Homo sapiens: one gene and its partners. The protein of the gene in region 4 interacts with the protein of the main gene of each other region in a pairwise test. Each region holds a gene or a part of one and is shown on either strand. Other genes may lie near its edges.

Region 1 (3,500 bases), on a different chromosome or scaffold from region 4:
GATCTCGGCTCACTACAACCTCCGTCTCCTGGGTTCAAGCAATTCTCCTGCCTCAGCCTCCTGAGTAGCTGGGATTACAGGCGTACGCCACCACGCCTGGCTACTTTTTGTGGGTTTTTTAGTAGAGACAGGGTTTTTCCATGTCGTCCAGGCTGGTCTGGAACTCCTGACCTCAAGTGATCCGCCCATCTCAGCCTCCCAAAGTGCTGGGATTACAGGCGTGAGCCACCTCACCTGGCCTTGTATGTATGTTTTTTTCTTTCTCTTTCTTTTTTTTTTTCTGTGACGGAGTATTGCCCTGTCGCCCAGGCTGGAGTGCAGTGGCGTGTTCTTGGTTCACTGCAACCTCTGCCTCCTGGGTTCAAGCCATTCTCCTGCCTCATGCTCCTGAGTAGCTGGGATTATAGGCACGCGCCACCATACCTGGCTAATTTCTGTATTTTTAGTGAAGACAGGGTTTCACCATGTTGGCCAGGCCGGTCTTGAAATCCTGACCTGAAGAGAGCTGCCCGCCTCGGCTTCCCAAAGTGCTGAGATTACAGGCGTGAGCCACCGCACCCGGCCCAGACATATGTTCTTAACGTACACTTTCAGAACAGCAGTTGAGAACTTTTTCCAAAATGTAAGCTCCTTGAGAGCAAAGCTCTCAGTGGGTCTCTGTGTCCTTTACTTTGCTTCTCTTGGTATCTTGTGGATAATATGCACAAAATATTTATTAAACAAGAGGATTTCCATTTTTTTCTAATATTAATAGTTCATTTAGTCTGTAGCTTCTTGAAGGCATAGAAAAGACTATTTTATTTTGCCTACTTATTTGGCAAGGTACCCATGCAGTATGCCAGGAGTTACAGGGCCTATTGAGAAGGAGTAAAGGGTCTGGGAGGGGTGGCAGGGAGTTGCTAATTCATGTATGGTGGCTAGAGAAGGCTTCACTGATGGGGTTGATGTTTCAGTGGAGACTTGAAGGAGGAACAGGAACGCAGCATGAGACTGTCTTGGGGAAGAGTGTTCAGCAGAGGCAGCAGTGCTCAGCTAGCCTTGAGGGGAACATCCAAGTTGGTCATGTGAGTGCAAAAAGGCCAGTGAGGCTGCAGCTGCGTGAGCACGTGCTCAATGACGGGGTCAAGTGCAGCGCCTCTTGGTAGTAAGAGTAGCTGAGTGTAAACACCTAGGGTTCGCTCCAGTGAGAAGGGGAGCCTTTGGAGGGGGCAAGGCCCACCCCCACCCCCCAAAACTGAGGGGATAGTGGCACCAGTGCAGTGAGAAATACTGGTCCTCTGTCCCAATGAGGTGGCAGTAGAGTTAGGGAGAAGGGATTAGGTTCTGCTTGTGTTTTATTTTTTTCTTTTATTTTTCTCTGTGTGCTTTTATATAGATTGGATGTATTTTAAAGGTAGAGCTGGCTTTGCTAATGGATATGCTGGTGGATTGGATGTGGGGTGAAGGGAGAGGAGTCAAAAATGACATCAGGTTCCCAAGGATGTCCTGAGGGACAGAGCTGGCATTTACTGAGACGTGGAGGACAATAGGAGGAGTAAGTTTGGGGTAGAACATCAGGAGTTCAATTTTGAGTATGTTGAGTTTCTTGTTAATGTGACTTGGAGATATTTCCCAATGAATCGTCGTCTGTCTTGAAAGTGAGAGTTGAAGGTTTTCTGTACAGTCTGTATGTTGAGCCATACATTTTAGCATTCTATTATTTTGATTGTCCTCTTTGGTGTTTCATTTCCTAAAATCTCTTCTATCTAAGAGATCCCTGAGCCTAGCAGCCAGGAGTGAATTTTCTAGCTTTTCCACCTCTGCTAGGTCCTTCATCAGTTGTTCAGCATGTCTGGGACAAATAATTTTGGGGCGGGGGGGTGCTGAATTTTAGGACAAACGGATGTTATAGATAAGCTGGTCCCATTATCTAATAGCTTACAAAGAAAAAAATATAATGTATACAGTGGTTGAAAAAGTAGGAGTTACAAAAAAATGTGTTTGCATTTTAACTTTTCAGGAGATGTTACAGCCCAGATAGCTCTTCAGCCTGCACTGAAGTTCAATGGTGGTGGTCATATCAATCATAGCATTTTCTGGACAAACCTCAGCCCTAACGGTGGTGGAGAACCCAAAGGTTGGTATATATTGGTGCACCCTTATCTACATTTTGTGCACAGTAGGAATCGATTGTTGATTTACTGAAGTTACCTTATACTTGTTTTTTGTTTTTTTTGTTGTTGTTTTTTTGAGACAAGAGTTTTGCTCTTGTTGCCCAGGCTGGAGTACAGTGGCGCAGTCTTGGCTCACTGCAACCTCCGCTTCCTGGGTTCAAGTGATTCTCCTGCCTCAGCCTCCCAAGTAGCTGGGATTACAGGCGCCCGCCACCACGCCTGGCTAATTTTTGCATTTTTAGTAGAGATGAGGTTTCATTCACCATGTTGGCCAGGCTGGTCTTGAACTCCTGACCTCATGATCTGCCCACCTTGGCCTCCCAAAGTGCTGGGATTACAGGCATGAGCCACCGTGCCTGGCCTAAGTTACCTTATTCTTACCAGAGGTATCATAGTGGCATATTTTTCATAACAACGAGTATGATAAAAGTTGTAACTTTCAAAAGGACACAAGTAGGAATGGAGAATGCTTTCATGGGGTTATGTCATAAGATTTTATGTTCACGCCAACATAGAATATCACATCAACTCCACCTTCTGGTTTCTGGATGGTACTTCATATTAGGGAAAGACTGAGAGACTTCATTTTATGAACTTTTTTTTTTTGAGACGGAGTCTTACAGTCGCCCAGGCTGGAGCGCAGTGGTGCAATGTCGGCTCATTGCAACCTCCGCCTTTCAGGTTCATGCAATTCTTGTGTCTCAGCCACCCAAGTAGCTGGGATTACAGGCATGTGGCATCACTCCCGGCTAATTTTTATATTTTTGGTAGAGACAGGGTTTCACCATGTTGGCGGGGCTGGTCTCGAACTCCTGGCCTCAAGTGATCCACCCACCTTGGCCTCCCAAAGTGCTGTGGTATGGATGTGAGCCACCGCGCCAGTCTAGAAAAGATGAACTTTCTGTCTACTAGTTTCTAGGGCCTGGATTAGATAGTTAACCGTCTGTACCTTTTTTCATCTATGTGATACAGGGATAACAATGGTGTTGTTTTGAGAATTAAATTATAGTGTCATTTGCTATTTTTCACTCTTTCCTAACTGATAAAAAGTCAGTTGTTCCAGGAAATTAGGTTTTCTGGGTATTTTTAAAAAGTGTTCAGGGAATGAGGAGAGTACAGGGCTAGATGGTCTTGTTCGCTATCACTGTTTCCTTGACTTCCTGTGTAGCTTGTGGAGGCCCAGATGACTTTAATTATCTTCTTCACCCAGGGAGGGCATGAGGCGTAAATGTAGTTCTTGTCTCTTGTTTCTGGGCTCCGGATATGCACCCTAAGTTTCTGTGGTTTTATTGTTCATTTTTAATCAGTGTTATGGAAGGCAGCCTATCTTATGCACTTGAAATAAGC
Region 2 (3,500 bases), on a different chromosome or scaffold from region 4:
ACTCGTCAAGGCCAGAGAAAGAACCTCCAGAAATCAATAGACTGAACAATTTCTGGAGCTCACACAAGGCTGGGAATAATTTTCAATCTTGCCAACCAGAATGGAAAAATGTCGTAATATGTCAACGTCAGGTAGGGTAATCAGAAGGGTATATTACTTTAGAAAATGGGCTAAGTTAGCCCTAGATTAAAGGCTGCTCTTGAGCCACTCTAACTAGGCTTTATTTAAGCCTCAGAAGGAACAAAATGATGTCATACCATGTTAACTGCATGCCAGAGTTAAATTCAATAGAACTGAAAGAACTACAACAAAATCCAGCAAATACAAAATTCACCAATATGAATTCATCAGTACAAACAATATGAAATTCATCATATTTGGCATCCAGTAAAAAATTACCAACCAGAAGAGACAAATCTCCAGGGCAGCAAAATTTCAAATAATTTACATTAATACACTACCCTCAGGGAGAGGGAGCATAACTATCCCCTCCTTAAGCGTGGGCTGTGCACAATGACTGCCTTCCAAAGTATACAAGTATAGAAGGAGGGAAAAAGAGTACAGTGGAGAAACCTGACAGACACTTCCTCAGCCAGGTGATTAAAGTCAACATCAATAGTCATAAATCATGTTGACGGTATGAACACTTAATGTGATGTGATGACAATGACACTTTAATGCTACTGTCTTCCTCTCCCAATTAATAACCCAAATTTTATGAGGAAAACATCAAACAAATTGCAATAGTGCAGCATCCTTACAAAATATATGACCAGTACTCCTCAAAACTATCTAAGTCATAAAAAATAAGGCAAGCCTGAGAAACTGTCACAGCCAAGGGGCACCTAAAGAAAATGACAACTTAGTGTAATGTGGCACCTTAGATGGAAACCTAAAACAGAAAAATGACATTAGGTAAAAACTAAGAAAATCTAAAGGAACTATGGATTTCAGTTAATAATGTATCAATTTGGTTCATTAGTTGTTAAAAATGTTAAATCTAAGATGTTAATAATAGAGAAAAGTGAGGATGGGGCATATAAAAAACTCTATACTATCTTCTCAGTTTTTCTGTAAAATTAAAAAATCTAAAAGTGTCCTAAAAAATAAAGCCCATTAAAAAGAAAAAGATTACTAGCCATACAAAGCAGCAGGAAAATATGACTCTCAGGAGAACAATCAAACAATAAAATCAGGCCCAGAAATGACAATGATGATAGAATTAGCAGACAAGGATATTAAAATGGATAAATGTCTTCCATTTTTTCAAGAATGTAGAGGAAGGCATGAACATGGTGAGAAGAGATAAGAAAGATATAAAAAGACCCAAATGAAACTTCTAGAAATGAAATGTATATAAAATGAAAATATCTTGAACAATATTAACAGAAGGTTAGACCATGCAGAAGAAAAGATGAGAACTTGAATAACAATAGAAACCATTTAAAATAAAGTGTGAGGTGAAAAAAGGCTAAAAAAGTACTGAATATCGATGACATGAGACAACTTGACAATATCAAGTTGTCTAAAATATGTAAAATTAGACTCCAAGAAGGAGAGGAGAAAAGGGGTTGGTAAAAAAGTATTTGAAGAAATACCAGCTGATATTATTCAAAATTTGATGAAAATTATAAACCCTTAGATCCAAGCAGCTCAATGACGCACAAGCAGAATAAATACAAAGAAAATCACACCAAGACCACGTATAATCAAATTGATGGAAGCAAGTGACAAAAAGCAAGTCCTAAAATTAGCCAGAGATGGCCAGGTGCGGTGGCTCACGCCTGTAATCCCAGTACTTTGGGAGGCCGAGGCGGGCAGATCACGAGGTCAGGTGATCGAGACCATCCTGGCTAACATGGTGAAACCCCATCTCTACTAAAAATGCAAAAAAATTAGCCGGGCGTGGTGGCGGGCACCTGTAGTCCCAGCTATTTGGGAGGCTGAGGCAGGAGAATGGCGTGAACCTGGGAGGCGGAGCTTGCAGTGAGCCGAGATTGCACCACACTCCAGCCTGGGTGACAGAGTGAGACTCCATCTCAAAAAAATAAATAAATAAAAATAAATTGAAAAGGCAAGCCATGGAGTGAGAAAAAATATTTAAGAAACATATATCTGATAAAGGATTTGTATCCTTTACAACTTAATAATACAACAATTTAACAAAAATATAGACAAAAGTTTGAACACAACCAAAAAAATATATGAATGGCAAGGAAGCACCTGAAAGGACGCTCAACAGGATTGCTCATTAGGGATATGCAGCCGGGCACCACGGCTCATGCCTGTAATTTCAACACTTTAGGAGGCTGAGGTGGATGGATCACTTAAGGCCAGGAGTTCAAGATCAGCCTGGCCAACATGGCAAAACCTCATCTCTACTAAAAATACAAAAATTAGCTAGGCATGGCAGTGCGCGCCTGTAATTCCAGCTACTGGGGAGTCTGAGGCGCAAGAATCACTTGAGCTTCGGAGGCAGAGGTTGCAGTGAGTTGAGATGCACCACTGTACTCTAGCCTGGACATCAGAGTGAGACTCTGTCCCACCCTCCCACCAAAACAAGAGATATACAAATTAAAACCACAATAAGATACTACTATACATTCAATAAAATGGTTTAAATTAAAAAGATTGACAATATCAAGTTTTGGAAAGGATATAGAGAAACTGGGATTTTCACTAATTGCAGGATGGATAAAACTACCATGGACTACCCCATGTCCATCAACTGGGAAATGAATAAGTAAACTGAATAAATAATCATGATTATTGATACATGGAACAACATAAGTGCTCAAAAAGCATTATGCGGCCTGGCGCAGTGGCTCATACCTGTAATCCCAGCACTTTGGGAGGCTGAGGCGGGCAGATCACGAGGTCAGGAGATCGAGACCATCCTGGCTAACAGGGTGAAACCCCGTCTCTACTGAAAATATAAAAAAATTAGCCGGGCATGGTGGCAGGCGCCTGTAGTCCCAGCTACTCGGGAGGCTGAGGCAGGAGAATGGCATGAACCCTGGAGGCAGAGCTTGCAGTGAGCAGAGATGGCACCACTGCACTCCAGCCTGGGCAACAGAGCGAGACTCCATCTCAAAAAAAAAAAAAATTATGCTAAGTGAAAAAAACCAGAAGACACAAAACACTACATAATGTATGCTATCACTTAGACAAAAATTTAGAAAAGACACATTTAAAGTGAAATAAAACATGTCAGTGAATGTTAGAGGCTGAGAGTAGAAGGAAGAGATTGATTTCAAAGGGGCATGTAGGAACTTTTTGGAGTGATAAAAATCTTCTATATTTTGATTATGGAGAGGTTTACCTAAGTGTATATATACATCAGAACTCATCAAATTGTGCCCTTAAAATTGGATAATTTTACTCTATGTTAACTATATCTCAGTATAGTTGATTTTTCTTCAATGTCAATTACCTGGAAAAATTTGCGATTTTTCATTAAATCAGGGATATATTTGTGATTTCTCATTAAATCAATAACC
Region 3 (3,500 bases), on a different chromosome or scaffold from region 4:
TGGGGCATTTGCATGGCCCACATGGCCTGCATTTGCATATCAAAGGTTGCTGGCCTGGCTCTAAGAGCCAGGGCTTTACAAGAAACTTTTCCAGAGATGCTTTAAAAAATGAAAACTTCCCAAGGACCCCTTTTCCTCTCTATCTGCCTAAAATAATTTCGTAATAACTCCTACCACAGTTATCTAGAGAGTGAGCTAACTGTACCATAAGACGACTCAGACTTAGACTATATCAGTTTTTCCGCATGGGTGAGTCTTATGAATTTTGGTGGCATCTTAGGCTAAGAAGAGGTAGCAAGGAGAAATTGCACATAGGTGTTCAGATATAAATCACGTTGTAACATGTAATACAGTGGATAAATCCTAGTGCTGGAACTCTTTCAGACACTGAAAAACAAGGAACAAGACTGAGAAACAGAATTTGCCCTATTTTATCACATGTAAAGTGGGATTTTATTTTTGCTTTTACCATTCTGTAAATTAATGCCTAGGATTTGGGAAAGGCATGCAGCCCAGATTGCTTAGTGCAAATCCAGTTTGCTGTGATTAATGGCAGCTGTAGTGGAGTAGTACGGCCAAAGGCTTGTAAGAAAAATGAAGACTTGCTTTTTTTTTTTTTTATGCACAGCAATGCCAAGAGTGACAGAAATGGAAGATCATCATACTTCTTCCAGCCAAATTCAGGAAATGTCCATTAGAGGTTCAGCCTAAAAGTGCAAATTTGAACTTCGTTTCTTTTCTTTTTTTTTTTTTTTTGAGTCGGAGTCTTGCAGTTTCACCCAGGCGGGACTGCAGTGGCACTATCTCGGCTCACTGCAAGCTCCACCTCCTGGGTTCACGCCATTCTCCTGCCTCAGCCTCCCGAGTAGCTGGGACTACAGGCACCTGCCACCGCGCCCGGCTAAGTATTTTTAGTAGAGACGGGGTTTCACCGTGTTAGCCAGGATGGTCTTGATCTCCTGACCTCGTGATCTGCCCGCCTTGGCCTCCCAAAGTGCTGGGATTACAGGCGTGAGCCACCGCATCCGGCTTGAACTTTGTTTCTTAGACAGTCACCACCATATGTGGAACTGTTGCTTTACTTTGGAGTGCATTTTAATGTCCCCAAAAAAGAAGGTTTATAGTGACCAATCAGCTCAGTTTTGTCCTTACCTTGTTTGTTGCTCTGCAGCTATGTTCTAGGTGCTGGTTGGTGGGTTTTCCTACTAGAGTACTGATAGCAGGCTGGATAGAGTGAGATGTCCCCTCTGTCTTCAAGCTGACAGCTACTGGATTCCTGCCAAGGCATTTGCTTACCTTATCTTGCCTTCACAATATTTCTGTGGGTAGAGAGAGCTACCTATCCCCATTTTTAGCTTGAGAAAATGAAGCCCAAGGTTGCGCAGCTATTATAACGGTGGAGTTAATCCAGGTGTGTTTAAACCAGTCAATCAACTTCCTCTCCCTCCTTCCATTATGAAATAGTTCAGACATACAAAGTAGAGAACAATATAAGGAATATTCAACTATCACCATCCACTTTTTTTTTTTTTTTTTTTTTTTTTGAGACAGGGTCATCTTGCTCTGTTGCCCAGGCTGGAGTGCAGTGGTGCAATCATAGCTCACTGTAGCCTTGACATTCCCAGCACAAGCAATCCTCCCACTTCAGCCTCCCAAGTAGCTGGGACCAGAGGTGTGTGCCACCATGCCTGGCTAATTTCTTTTTAAATTTGTTTTAAATATAGGTAATATAGCGTCTCCCTAAATTCCAAATTCCAAAGTGTTGGGATTACAGGCATGAGCTACCACACCTGGCTCCCTAACCATCTTAAAAAAAAAAAAATGTAAATCCAACTGAAGCTTTCTGACAATGTTCTTTTGTTACATCATTTCCCTCTATCACAGAAAAGGTTATTCAGAAATCCTTAGGAAAGCCCTTAAGCTGGATAGAACTGCAATATTTTGATATATGCAAATACTCTGATAGATGGTGTGGAGAATACAGAGATGTGGTCCCCACCATCAAGGGACCAGAAACTTATTGCACAGTAAGTTGAATGTTGTGGAACTTTGATAGGTATTTCCTGAAAAGCTGACACATTTACGTTTGGCTGGTGCAGTTAACTTAGAATAAGTAAGTTTAAAGAAACCCTGAATTACATAAAGAAAGGGAAGATATTCCTTCTTTCTTAAAAATCCAGGCTGTTCTTCAATGGTATGGAAGAGAATAACAAGGTTATTAGTTGGGTTTTCCTTTTAATGTATTTTTAAGTGTTATTCAAAGACAGCCTAGTCTAGCCTCAGTCGTGATAGCAATCTGGCTCCTTACTGGTGATTGCTCCAAAGTAAATATGTGTGAAAATGAAAAATACCAAGTTGGTATTAACAGTTCACTTTCTAATATGAGAAATGTTTCAATGATAGAAATGCCTCGACAACAACAAAGTATTTTAAGAACCAGTTGATAACTTGGGATCCAATATAAGTAATTGTAGTGTCATTACCTGGAGGCCTGGATTTGGCCTTTGGTTCTGCAGGAATCATGAGGGAACTTCCAGCAGATGTCTGTTGCATCCATGAGCATTCAGAATACAGGTAGCTTTGGAGGCAAGGGGCAAGGTCAGTTTCTCTAACTGTACTACAAACACGGGTCAGTGCAGGCTGTTGGAGCCAAGGCTTTATGTCTTAGGTTTTACCGCCAGGCTTATGTTTCACTCTGGATTTCAACAATGGAGTGCCTGTCTCCAGGGAGGAGAATAAAAGATTTATGCAGCTACAAAAGGAAAGCTTGTAAACATGTCCTATTGTCGCAAGATACTGATCCTATATGGATGCCTTCACGGTAAGCCTGGTAACATTTGTGGACCCTTGGAATGACTTTGTTCCTGTCTGGTTAAGAGAAGTTGGCTTTTTGCAAATTCAGACTTACATTTTAGTGATAACAAGCCATACCAGTCAGGGGTGTGTGTGTGTGTGTGTGTGTGTGTGTGTGTGTGTGTGTGTGTGTGTGTTGTTTGTTTTAAGGAACAGGAGCTCCAATTCCAAATGACTTAAGAAGGGAATTTATTGGCTCATAACTGAGGCATGCAGGATAAGATAAGGCACAGTTGATTGGCCGTGACTGAGTCACATGCCCAGCCTTGGAGTTGGGGGTTGCTATGGTTTGAGTGTTTTTGTCCCCTCTGAGAATCATGTTAAAACTTAATTCCCAATGCAACAACGTTGGGAGTTGGGCCTAATGGGAGATGTTTAGGTCATGAGGGATCCACTCTCTTGAATGGATTAGTACCACCATAAAAAGGCCTGGTGGGAGCGGGTTCACCCTCCTCTGCTCTTCTGCCATGTAAGGTACAGTGTTCCTGGCCTCCAGAGGATGCTGCATTGGAGGCACCATTTTGCAGCAGAGATGGGGCCCTTAGCAGACACTAAACCTGCCATACCTTGATCTTGGACTTCCCAGCCTTCAAATATTTATATTCTCAGTCTGTTCTTTATAAATTACCTAGTCTCTGGTATACTGT
Region 4 (3,005 bases):
GGGGGTGTGGGAAGGCAGGGTTAGGGGATGGCATCTGCGCCTCATCAGCATCGATCCTCCATGGTGTCGTATCCTGAAAGTGGGAAAGGCGCTGTCCAGATAGACGCTTATCTCGTAGACAGAACAAGAACGGGGAGGCAACCATTATTTCACATACAGCAAGTTACTGTTATTTTAATGCCCTAACAATGAATCTATATTTAATTAACTTAAAAGATAGGGGAGGTGAGAGTATTATTCACTAAGTTCTTGGTCAAGGCACATTAAATCAAAGCGGTTAGCACTTAGATCTCTTCCAGGGATAAATTATCTCAGACAAGCTTCAAGGTATGCCATGCTTTGGAATGAATTGTCACTTTCCAACCACCACCACTCAACCTGTGATCTGACCACAGTGTCTTCCTCCTGTCTCCCTTCCCTCTGGGTGCCTGGGAAGGCTGGGCTTCTGCACTGTTCTGCCACTGACTTAAGCTTTGTCGTGACTATACCTTCCACTTCTCTTCTAGCTTAAGAGTTGGACAGTGGAGGACCTTCAGAAGAGGCTCTTGGCCCTGGACCCCATGATGGAGCAGGAGATTGAAGAGATCCGGCAGAAGTACCAGTCCAAGCGGCAGCCCATCCTGGATGCCATAGAGGCTAAGAAGAGACGGCAACAAAACTTCTGAGCAAGGCCAGGCTGTGAGGGCCCCAGCTCCACCCAGGCTTTGGGTGAATTCTGGATGGCTTGCCTCATGTTTGTTAGCCAGCACTTCTGCTCTGTCGTCTCTCCACAGCACCTTTGTGAACTCAGGAATGTGCGCCAGTGGGAAGGGCTCTCTTGACAGTCAGCGTGCCATCTTGATGTGTGTATGTACATTGGTCAGGTATATTATCTCAAAGGATTTATATTGGCGCTTTTAACTCAGAGTTTTAAACCCCAGGAACAGAGACTCCTAGTTGAGTGATAGCTGGGAAAGTTTTACATTGTCTGTTTTTCTTCTCCCAATAGCTTTCAATTGTTCTTTCTGGAAGACTTTTAAAAAAATATAAATATGCATATATATATATAAATTATAAATAGATTCCCCACGCAGTGTGGTGGCATCTCTGTACAGGTACAGTTTTAAACGGTTTGCCTCTTTTCTGTAAGATTATGGTACTGTGGAACATGAGGGCAGAGGACACCGGGAGGCTGTTAGGGGGTCACTGAATCCCAGGAGCCAACCTCCCCCTTTGCAGGGCTGCATTTAAAAATTAGGTTTGGGACAGTTCTTGTACCGTGGTTTCAGCCTTGTGTGGTCATCACTGGCTTCTGGAGCTATTGGTGATGTCCAAGGGAAAGCTTTGAGAGTTTATGTTTACTCTTTGAGTCCCAGGAGAAGCCTGGCACCCTCTTTGCAAATTGGCCTTTGCTCTTTCAATGCCTTTCATCCATCTCCACTCTCTCAACTGCCTAAAGTCACAGCACAGATACTGCCCAGTGCCTTAAGAGGAGACATGATCTCTACCAGGGACTCTCAGCAAACACGGGACTGTGTTCAGTCCACAAAGGAAAAGCGTTTTTGAAGCTCTCATTGTTCATGTAAAAATCATACACGTGGCATGTTGCTCCACATTCCTTACACACAGGGGTAGAGGGGATTGCTTTTGTGACCCACGTTCAAATATGTGACTGTTTTCTTTTCTCTTTTACTGCTAAGCAGCCTGGAAAGGATAAATGAATATTAGACTAAGATTTGTTTTCCAGGAGGCTCAATCTGAACACACAGAATGTCAGAGCTGGAAGGGACTATAGAGATCATCTGATCTGATCCTCTTGTACGGATGATCGCAAAACTGAGGTGTAGAGAGGGGAATGGCCAAAATCACAAAGCAAGTTAGCGTTAAGAGCTGAGACTAGAATTCAGGGTCCTCACTCCCAGGCCACCGAACCATGCAGCCCCTTCTTTGGGGGAAGAGACCTGTGTCAGTCTTGGTTAATTGTTCCAGGGAACCTTGCTAACAGAAACTTGCTCTTGCCTTGGCTCTTCAGTAGATGACCTGGCTGTAAAGAGATTCCCTGGACGAGCCAGATCATTCAGTTTCAGCGAGTCCTTGAGCTCCACAACATCTACCAGATATAGCAGACAAGCACCCATGGAGGCAGGTTTCGGGCCTGAAGCAGATCAGAGGGCTTTGCAAAAGACAGCATAGAGCCATCTTCCTGCAACTTTACCTCTTTCCCTCAGATGGGGAGCCATGACTGGGTTGCACCTCAGGATACTGTAATTTGACTCCATAATTGCTTTTGCTCCTGAAACCTGGGAATCAATGGAAAGGCAGGGAATGTGCCTCTTCTGTGGCCAGATTCTGTTATTTGCAATTAAAGCAAGTTTTTAAAAAATGCAAGAGGCAGTTGTTAGTCTTCAGGGCTTGGCAACTGAAATAGCTATGTGGCGGATACGGAAAACAGAGGACAATTTGAGGATCTTGCTGGAATAATAAATGACAGCTACCATTTGTTGAGCACCTATTATATATCAGGCACTGAGCTGGGTAGGCTCTAAACTTCACAATAACCCTGTGACTTAACTACTTTATCTCCATTTTGTAGTTGAAGAAATAAGTTCAGAGAGAAAGATTCCTTCCCAAGGTCATGCAGCTAGTAAATGATAGAATCAGGATTCATAGCATCACTATAGGGGGTCAATATTTACACAAAAAAGGAAAGTCACAAGCCTGTTTAAAATGAAGTGACCACCTTTTCTTGCATAGACTAAATAACTCGAACTGGCATTTTTAGGTTGGAAAGACAGCTGAATTAGTAGTTAAGTCTGATAGCCAAGTAAGTTTTAAAAACCAAAGCATCCAGGATGCACACCCCTGCACCATTTGCTGTGCGAATTAATAGTTCTGTCTCTCTCTCTCTTTCTTTTTTCTTTTTATTCTTTGAGATGGATTTTCGCTCTTGTCGCCCAGGCTGGAGTACAATGGCACGATCTTGGCTCACTGCAACCTCCGCCTCCCGGGTTCAAGCGATTCTTCTG

Evidence for each region.
Region 1: the proteins of STK4 (region 4) and SOD2 interact in a two-hybrid assay, tested with the Homo sapiens proteins (one large-scale study listed by IntAct).
Region 2: the proteins of STK4 (region 4) and TRIM69 interact in a two-hybrid assay, tested with the Homo sapiens proteins (one study listed by BioGRID).
Region 3: the proteins of STK4 (region 4) and CSRP2 interact in a two-hybrid assay, tested with the Homo sapiens proteins (one large-scale study listed by IntAct).

The regions. Positions count from the first base shown.
Region 1 is NC_000006.12:159,686,742-159,690,241, reverse strand, and holds part of SOD2 (superoxide dismutase [Mn], mitochondrial isoform A precursor), read left to right. Parts: intron 1-1,999; coding exon 2,000-2,116; intron 2,117-3,500. UniProt on the Homo sapiens protein: Destroys superoxide anion radicals which are normally produced within the cells and which are toxic to biological systems.
Region 2 is NC_000015.10:44,760,528-44,764,027, reverse strand, and holds part of TRIM69 (E3 ubiquitin-protein ligase TRIM69), read right to left. Parts: intron 1-3,500.
Region 3 is NC_000012.12:76,869,020-76,872,519, reverse strand, and holds part of CSRP2 (cysteine and glycine-rich protein 2), read left to right. Parts: intron 1-2,668; exon of another isoform or gene 2,669-2,821; intron 2,822-3,500.
Region 4 is NC_000020.11:45,074,512-45,077,516, forward strand, and holds part of STK4 (serine/threonine-protein kinase 4), read left to right. Parts: intron 1-506; coding exon 507-665; 3' UTR 666-3,005. UniProt on the Homo sapiens protein: Stress-activated, pro-apoptotic kinase which, following caspase-cleavage, enters the nucleus and induces chromatin condensation followed by internucleosomal DNA fragmentation.